3 linked regions of the Homo sapiens genome follow. The protein of the gene in region 2 purifies or fractionates together with the protein of the main gene of each other region. This does not show direct contact. Each region holds a gene or a part of one and is shown on either strand. Other genes may lie near its edges.

What was found.
Region 1: the proteins of THY1 (region 2) and MFN2 purify together in Homo sapiens (affinity purification with mass spectrometry; one large-scale study listed by BioGRID and IntAct). This does not show direct contact.
Region 3: the proteins of THY1 (region 2) and TIAL1 fractionate together in Homo sapiens (co-fractionation; one large-scale study listed by BioGRID). This does not show direct contact.

Annotation. Positions count from the first base shown.
Region 1 is NC_000001.11:12,011,395-12,014,117, reverse strand, and holds the end of MFN2 (mitofusin-2), read right to left. Parts: intron 2,623-2,723; coding exon 2,553-2,622; 3' UTR 610-2,552; downstream 1-609. UniProt on the Homo sapiens protein: Mitochondrial outer membrane GTPase that mediates mitochondrial clustering and fusion. Mitochondria are highly dynamic organelles, and their morphology is determined by the equilibrium between mitochondrial fusion and fission events.
Region 2 is NC_000011.10:119,414,885-119,417,641, forward strand, and holds the end of THY1 (thy-1 membrane glycoprotein isoform 1 preproprotein), read right to left. Parts: 3' UTR 592-2,757; downstream 1-591. UniProt on the Homo sapiens protein: May play a role in cell-cell or cell-ligand interactions during synaptogenesis and other events in the brain.
Region 3 is NC_000010.11:119,572,950-119,576,607, forward strand, and holds the end of TIAL1 (nucleolysin TIAR), read right to left. Parts: intron 2,864-3,658; coding exon of another isoform or gene 2,843-2,863; coding exon 2,716-2,842; 3' UTR 516-2,715; downstream 1-515. UniProt on the Homo sapiens protein: RNA-binding protein involved in alternative pre-RNA splicing and in cytoplasmic stress granules formation. Shows a preference for uridine-rich RNAs.

The sequences.
Region 1 (2,723 bases), on a different chromosome or scaffold from region 2:
CCTTAAAAAAAAAAAGAAAAAAAAGCGGTGGCTCACACCTGTAATGCCAGCACTTTGGGAGACCGAGGCAGGTGGGTCACAAGGTCAGGAGTTTGAGACCAGTATGGCCAAGATGATGAAACCCTGTCTCTACTAAAATACCAAAATTAGCCAGGCCTGGTGGTCGGCGCCTGTAATCCCAGCTGCTTGGGAGGCTGAGGCAGAGAACTGCTTGAACCCGGGAGGCGGAGCTTGCAGCGAGCCGAGATCGTGCCACTGCACTCCAGCCTGGGCGACAGAGCGTGACTCCATCTCAAAAAAGAAAAAAAAAAAAAAGAATAGTGGCAACCAAATTCTCAGAAGGCAAAGCAGGATGGAACAGTGAGTCATTTACTTTTTAAGTGAAAAATGGTCTGGAGTTACAGAGAAATCTGTAAAGAAATCAGTCTCGATTTCCTGATCCTTAAAGATCAGTTAAACCATCTGTTCTTTTGAGAGTATCAAATTCCTTCCAAGAATAAGGAGCCAGATTATAGTGGGAACTTCCCCAAAGTTATGGTCACTTCAGAATACAGCTGGCCATGTCAAAGAGGAGTTTGTACAAGAACCCAAAAAGACAGATCTCACAAAGGATTTCCAACTAGGTTTTATTTTAGTTTCCAATATTATGAGCAATGATACAGGAGTAACTCAAGCAAATACATCACCTTAAATACATCAGAGAAAACTCACTGTGTCAGCACGTCTTGCGCTCCAGCAAATGAACATAAAAACAACAATGTCAGCAGCATTAAAGTGCTTTTGGCCATACTTCTTTCAGAAAGGGTCTCTCCCTCAGTGGTATAAATTTAATTTTACGTATTGAAGAAGCTCAAAATTTCATTCATTCCCCAGGGGCTACATTGAAAAAAAATTCATGTTTACGCTAAAGAATTTTTTTTTTTCAAAAAGAGCACAAAATCCATTGGAATTGTGTGACAGTGATTTTCCCTGACATGCTGTGAAGTGGCCCCTGTCCATTCAGGCCCGGCACACGCCGGGAACATCCACCCACAGCATGTCCACCTGGCAGAGTCCATCACTTCGCCCCACACAACAGGACAGACTGAGGGCTTTAAATACAAGCAGGTATGTGAACAGGACATCACCTGTGATGTGGCCACCAAACAGTGCACAGAGGCTACCAACTCATTTCCTCAAAGATGAGTGATGGCTGGGCTGCTGGGCCCCTGCCTTGTGGGCTGCTTTTTGGGAGAGGTGTTGCTTATTTCTAGGAAGCGATCCAACTTGTGCCACACAGGATTTGTCACCCAAACTGCTTTTCTCACACAGTCAACACCTTGGTGACAGGCATCTGCCCCCACTTCAACCAGTAACAATCCCAAAACTCAACATCAGCATAAAGACAAGGGGGTCAGTCGAAGGTTCTGGAGATCAGGGAGGGTGGAAAGATGGACACTGGGTTTTCCACATTGTCCCTTGGCCAACTGCAGTCACTGGCACAGGAAATTTAGTCCAGGGCACTTGGGACAAGGTTGGGGGTGGGGTGGAAACATGTCTCTTAAAGGGCACAACAGGGATGCAATCAAGCCTAGTGGGTGGGGGCTCTCAGACCCATGAGCCCCTCGCAGAACGAGGCCAAGTGGACGGCCCATTCTCCAGCTGTCCTGTGTGGGGCCCATGCACCTCAGCCAGCCACCAACGTCCCCACCTTCCACCATCCATCCTTCTACTACATCCTTCAACCACCTAGACCATGCCATCTTCCAAAACAGATCTACACAAAACAGGCCTGCACAAGTCCAGGACTGACACTAAAGCAAAGGACACAATAATGAGAAGAGAGGCAAGTCCCTCCTTGTCCCAGTGACTGCCACCTGCTCTGCCAGCTCCCCATACATCCAACAGCCCTCCCCTCTGAGCTACTCCCACTCCTCCAGCTGCCTCAGCAGCATCCTTTCTACCACCCCCAGCACAGGGCCCGCCTCAGCCTAAGCCCAGGGGTAACTGAGCCTCACCACCAAGACGTGTCTGAGGCTCTGCAAATGGGATGAAGCACTGAGCCAACAGGCGAGATGGACACACACAAGCCACAGTCCTTCTGGGACAGACTCTCTGGGAAGAAACTCCAATCGTCCCTTACACCTGCAGGTGTGCTGGGCTGCAAGGAGGGCAGGTGCGCACAGGCTGGAGGAAGGTGGGGGTGTCTGTGTGATACCCTCAAAGGCTTCCATGAGGCATTGTGCAATGCTGAGATCCTGAGGCCTTATCAAGCAATCAAATGAACCAGAGAAAGCTGGAAAAAGCCTCAACTTAACTCCTTGGTACCATGCTGTCCATAGCTGTCGCTGAAAGTGTCCTTTGGGGGTATGAGCCAGCTCTTCCAGCAACAGCAGGCAAAGGTGGGGGAAAATAAGTAGTGCTGGAGGGCTCAAAATGGTACGAGACTGGGTGCTTCATTCTCTTGGCAGTGGCCAGGGGGCAGGAGCCACACGTGCCCCTGGGGGAGCCCACATGGCACTTAGGGCTGGCAGCACCGCCCCTCTCCACGCAGACTCCGCCTCAGGTGCCCACTATCTGCTGGGCTGCAGGTACTGGTGTGTGAACATGTTGAGCTCACTGTCCAACCAACCGGCTTTATTCCTGCAAAGAAATGGTTCTTTTGTAACCATGATAGCTGATGATAGGCAGTATTAGGACTACCCGCCAGGCACCATCCTAAGGACGCTTGACACACACCCTTA
Region 2 (2,757 bases):
AGCCAGGTGCATTTAGATGCTTAATGTTTGTTGTACAAATACATGATTTCAGCCCAGTCAGCTTATTTTAAGAATTATTGTTTTTATTATTTTTTTGAGACAAGGTCTCACAGTGTTGCTTAGGCTGGCCTCAAACTTCTGGGCTCAAGGGGGGCCTCCCATCTCAGCTTCTCAAGAAGTTGGGATTACAGGTGGCTGCCACTGCACCAAGCTCTAATCCTTTTTTTTTTTTTTTGAGACTGAATCTCACTCTGCCACCCAGGCTGGAGTGCAGTGGCATGATCTCGGCCCACAACCTCCGCCTCCTGGGTTCAAGTGATTCTCCTGCCTCAGCCTCCCAAGTAGCTGGGATTACAGCCGTGCACCACCACACCTGGCTAATTTTTATTTATTTACTTATTTTTTTTTTTTAGTAGAGACAGGGTTTCTGCATGTTGGCCAGGATGGTCTCAAACTCCTGACCTCAAGTGATCCACCTGCCTTGGCCTCCCAAAGTGCTGGGATTACAGGCGTGAGTCACCACACTCTAATTTTAAGACTTACTGAAGTGAAACCCTAAAGGGGGAAGAGGCTAGAGTCCTCTAGTCCATGTTCTCACCAAATTCAGGAAACTGCTTTATTGCAAACTTGACAGGTGGCCTCCACCTGGCCACGCCACTGCCAGGCACTCCCCGCCTGCACTGCTGGGCACCTCCAGCCATCACAGCCCCTTCCTGGTGCAGAGCCACACTTGGCCTCCATGAAGCTGCCACATTGGTCCTACCCACCCTCCATATGATGTGTCTACATCTACAGGTCCCACTGACCCCAGCTCTTCCTTGTGCCGGGCAAAGATGCCTCCTGTGGGTCTGCACAGGACATGTTTCTCCTTGAGTGTGTTGGGGACATTCCAGGCCTGAGAGTGTCCTGAGGCTGAGAGCCCCTGTTGAGCAGAAGAGAGCTGATGGCCCTCTTGCCTGGCCAGGACTCTCTGAAGGACTCCAGCTCCAACATTTTCTCACTAGTAAATGAGATGATTTACTCTTGACTTGGGTTTGTTTGTTTCACATGTAAAGACACCTTCACAGCACGAAAGCTGCAGATTCAGAGAGGGACATCAGGTTGAGGAGGCGGGAGGGATGTGTGTCACAGGTCCCCGGACGCTGTGTAGATTTCTTGGTTGGCCAGTGAAAGTCCCCACATCTCACGGAGATCCCCATGCCCTTCCCGAGGAAGCCTCTAGATGTCAGAGATGCAGACATTGCGCGTCTCAGTGGACAATCCAGTCCAGAAATGGGGGTGCAGAGAGGGGCTTCTGTTGCTCTTGAGCGGGAATTCCACGGCCCTAGGTATGGACTTAGGTGCTGAAGGGGGGGGACCCAGGAAAGAGGTTAGGACTGGCGAGGGAGTGGATGGGGATGGGGTTGGGGCATGTGTACAGGAACCAGGGCTGGGGGCCAGCCCTCTATAATTACCTGAGTCACCACAGATACCCCACAGCCTCCACAAGGCCTGCTGACTTGACCAGGGAGGGACCCACGGCTGTCGCGGCCTGTGGCTGAAAGTCTGCGGGCTCCCAGTCCTCAGCATGGTCATTCCGGGTAGGTTTATTTTATTTTTTATTTTTTTGAGATGGAGTCTCACTCTATCTCCCAGGCTGGAGTGCAGTGGTGCAATCTTGGCTCACTGCAACCTCCGCCTCCCGGGTTCAAGTGATTCTCCTGCCTCAGCCTCCTGAGTAGCTGGGATTACAGGCGCAGGCCACCATGCCTGGCTAATTTTTGTATTTTTAGTAGAGATAGGGTTTCGAGGCTAGTCTCGAACTCCTGACCTCAAGCGATCCGCCTCTTCCCAAAGTGGTGGGATTACAGGCATGAGCCACTGTGCCCATCTCTGGGTAGGTTTGCGTTGTGAGGCCTGATGCCCTGTTCTTCTCTTCTCCTTTCCGAAGTCCGTGGCCCTCTGGTGGCCTCTGTGGCTTCTTGAGCTAATCTCACCCACTGTGGGCCTCAGGTTCCGCTCCCCTAAACATGGCTGCAGAGGGCAACACCATCTCCCAGCACCCTTCTAAGAGTGTGGCTGCTAAACTCTTCAGGGACATAGTACTAGAGTGTGACAAAGACCCCATAGGAAGTGTCACACAGGTGCGAGGCTTCACACAGTGCCGCTCATTTCCTTCCAGAAATACCTCCATACTCTTTTACTATCCTGAGGGTGGGGCACCCCACATTTCTCTGGCATTTGATCTCCCTTCCCCCACAGCAGCTCTTCTCACCAAGATGCCTTTCCTTGGCACGGCGCTTGCAGCCCAAGCAGGGCTGAAGGAGAGGGGCCTGAGTCTCAGGGGTGTTCCTCCCCTTGGAGAGCTCTGGGCTGGCAGCATCTTGCTAAGGGGTTGTCAGCCTCCCAACCTGGGACAAGGACAGCTCCTCCTCCTCTGTGTATGGTAACTACAGGGGTGGAAGGCAAGGCAGAGAAGTTGACGGGAGGTAGCAAGAGTGGGAGCCGGTGGCATAATTTAGATCTGAGGCCTTTAAGAAAAATGCTCAGAAACAATCATCCTACCCAGTGCTAAATATCAGATGAGTCAGCCTCTGGGCAGCTGTCACCTTCCTCCCCCAAATTCCCTGGCAAAGCAGGGAGGCTGGCTTGGGGCTGCCTCTCTGACTCTGACAGCAGTTGGAACCCACAGCTACCCTGCGGTCCCCCTCTTGCCCCCAATCCCAGGATGCTCGCTTCCATTTTACTCTACTTTTAGGGAAGGAGCCAGGGATGGGC
Region 3 (3,658 bases), on a different chromosome or scaffold from region 2:
GGAGGCTGAGGCAGGAGAATAGCTTGAACCCAGGAGGCGGAGGTTGCGGTGAGCCGAGATTGCACCACTGCACTCCAGCCTGGCGACAGGGCAAGACTCCGTCTCAAAAAAAAAAAAAAAAAAAAGCCAGACACCGTGGCTCACGCTTGTAGTCCCAGCACTTTGGGAGACTGAGGCGGGCGGATCACGAGGTGAGGAGATCGAGACCATCCTGGCCAACATGGTGAAACCCCCATCTCTACTAAAAACACAAAAAAATTAGCTGGGCATGGTGGCACGTGACTGTAATCCCAGCTACTCAGGAGGCTGAGGCAGGAGAATCGCTTGAATCTGGGAAGCAGAGGTTGCGGTGAGCCAAGTTCTCATCACTACATGTACTCCAGCCTGGCGACAGAGCAAGACTCCATCTAAAAAAAAAAAAAAAAAAAAACCACTTAATATGAAATAACTTCCATTAACTGATCATGAAATTTTGCCCTCTTTCAGATTAAGATGAAGGACACTTCAGTCACATGTTTACTGTGGCAATATAACTAGTCTGGATAATTTTATTAAATCATAGAATATACAGTCAGGAAACACTACAGCTATATTTAGCTGTTAGTTATCTCAATAAGCTACTTAATTTACTGGCAGACCAAAACAGGCATACTAAGCATTTTTATCAATTAAAAAAAGTCTTCAGTTGTTCAAGTTTCACATATACTCATAAAATTTTTAACTCGGGGGCACAGTTAACATAATTTATTGAGTGTTCTCCCTATAAAATATAAATTAACTTTTCCAAAAACATTCCTCAAAGATACTATAAACAAAAGAAATAAGGGTATATTTTATAACAGAAGAGTGTAATAGATGACCATTATGGTAAAACTAAGGTGCCATAAAAAATTTGGCCCAGCTATGAATTTCAGACCCTATGAATTTTTATGTTGAATACATTTGGCTATATTGCTAAGTGGGAAAAGGAGGAAAGTAATACCAAAATTATTGTGACCACCAATTTATAAAATCATTATTTTAAAGCTAATCGTAAAACTTCAAATGTTTAGAAAACAGTAATTTGTGGGTACTAATCGCATCTTACTATGTAACTGTAAAAGGCTATTTTCTCTTTGGTGCCCAGGCCAGCATTTTGAATACATTGCCAAAACATTTGCACTCCCTAGCTCTGACAATTCAAATACATAGGATTTTATCTATTTTACATTCCTGTTTGATAGAAATTTGAGGCAAATTTTACCCACACAGCCTGAAAAATACCTTGAAAGCAAACCTCGGTCTTCTGCATCTTCCAATTGATTCCTTTACAAACTCTGCACACATACAACTTAAGCCTCTGCTCAGGCTTATTATACCATGCACACTGCCCACAAGGAAAAAAATTAATTGAAAATAAAAGCCACAACTCTGTGTACTATTTAAACTGAATATCCAATTATAAATTGGTACATTGAAGTGTCTAAATAAGATGTTTTTAGCAATCTTGTTAAAAAAATTCTTGGGCAAAATATATCTTAATTTTTAAAAACACCCCAAGATTTTTAAAAAACACTTGTACTATACAACTTATAGTAACCTTGAAATTGGTTTACAAGGTTTTAATCAAGGTATTTACATACCAAGTAATGTAAAGCAAAAAAAAAAAAAAAAAAAAACAAAAACAAAAAACTAATTCCCAATGACATTTTAGAACATACTAATGCATCAAAGATTGTATGAAATTAAAATTAAGGCTTTTTCTGCACAATTTGTGTAATTTTAATTTTACATAGTAGCCAACCTTGGAAATGTCAGTCTTAACATTCTGATCAATCCACTGCATTCAATGCAGCGGAGTGTGTTAAGTGTTACTTCAAATAATTACATTGCTGCTACTTCTATGTTGAAGCATGCTTTTTAAACACTGTAGTTATTGAATATTTACAATATGTATCATTTAAACTTCATGTAAAAGCACAAGTATGACTGTCTGACTTCAATACAAACACCATACTTGGATTTCCCCCCAAAATGAAATGTAAAATACTACAATTTTAATAATCGACACTTTTGGAAGTTTTAAAAATATGTCTTAACGTGGACCACCAACATTTGCTCAAGTAACTCAAACAATGCTGTTCCTTTTTTAGGGTGCAAAACTTCAGTCTGGCTTCAGTTTCTTTAGGCATAGAGAAAGAAAATATTTCCTCCAAAGCGACTCCAAAATCACGCATTTCTTCTGAATATCACACTTTTTCTCTGCTGACTTCAAATGTGGTCCACCTCAGGGAAGGGGAGGGGAGTATCAGGATTCAGGATGAACTTATATGTGATTCCCAGGTTTTCACGATCCTCCCTTTTTTGCTCTTTTAAAAACACAGTGAGTTAAAATACTGAACAGCAAGATAAAAATGGAATAGTATCTAAGAATCAAAATGTATTAGCCATTTTTCCTATTATATCAAAATTTGTAGTCAGAATTGTCTTTATTGACTTTATTTTAGTTTTTGTACATAAAGAAAAATCATGTTCATATCCATCATGAACAAAAACTTAAAAAGGCAGAACTAGAAGACACGTGTCCTTCACCAAAGCAAATCTGTGCTAAAGGTTCCAAACATTTCAATTTTTAAAATAAATATTTTCATTTTCCGATGTCTACTTTCATGTCTTCAGAGTGTCACAGGAAATCGAAGCCTATCATGAATTACAATTTTTTTTTAGAGTCCCGGCTCACTGTGTTTGGTAACTTGCCATACCATATCCGGCTTGGTTAGGAGGAGGTATTACAGGGGGAGGAGCTTGTCCTTGGGGAGGCTGAGCACCAAATCCACCCATCCAAGCAGCAGAAGGTGATTGACTTGGAAGAAAAAGAAAAAATCTTCAGCAAACACAAGAAAAAAAAAATCACATATGTATTTACACAAAAATCAAGCAGAGCCTAATCACAGAATAGAAAACCAGAAATCAACACACCTACAACAAATAGAAAGATCAAAGAAATAAATGATATATGTGTAGAATACATATTCCAGTATTAGTCTTTGATATTTTTAAGATAACCACAACTTAACACACTGATGTCTGAGGAGTATCTGCAAACTAATTTTTTAAAAATTGTGAATGATTCAACACATCATCTATTACATAAGAAATTTTAAAAACAAGTTCATGTTGGAAACAGTCTCAAAGGAAGAAATCTGAAAATAAAGCTATGGGCTGGCCCTGGGCAGGGGAATTACAAAGGAGGAAACCACTCTATCAACAAAAGAAAAAAAAAAAAAAAAAAGGCCAGTTACTTTGTATCACACAAACCTCAGATTTCTCACACATACCACATAGGCATAAAACCATCAAACTTTTGAATATATCTGGACAAAGATCTTTTACATGCAAAAATAAATAAAAGTGTATCAGAAATGTAAATCAAATTCTACCAACTGCTTACAGGGATCATAGGACACACTAAATGTTACCCCAATCCCCCCTTTCCACCTAGGTAATGAGAAGTAATTTCTTAGCCTCATAAATCATATTTTGTTAGATTAGTTTCTATAATGCTCATAATGCCAAATAGCTCAATGTATATAATTAAAATAGATTCTCCCTAGGAAAACACACTTTTATTTATTTTGTCAGAACCATACGTTTCTATACTGGAAAAACCCAAACAACT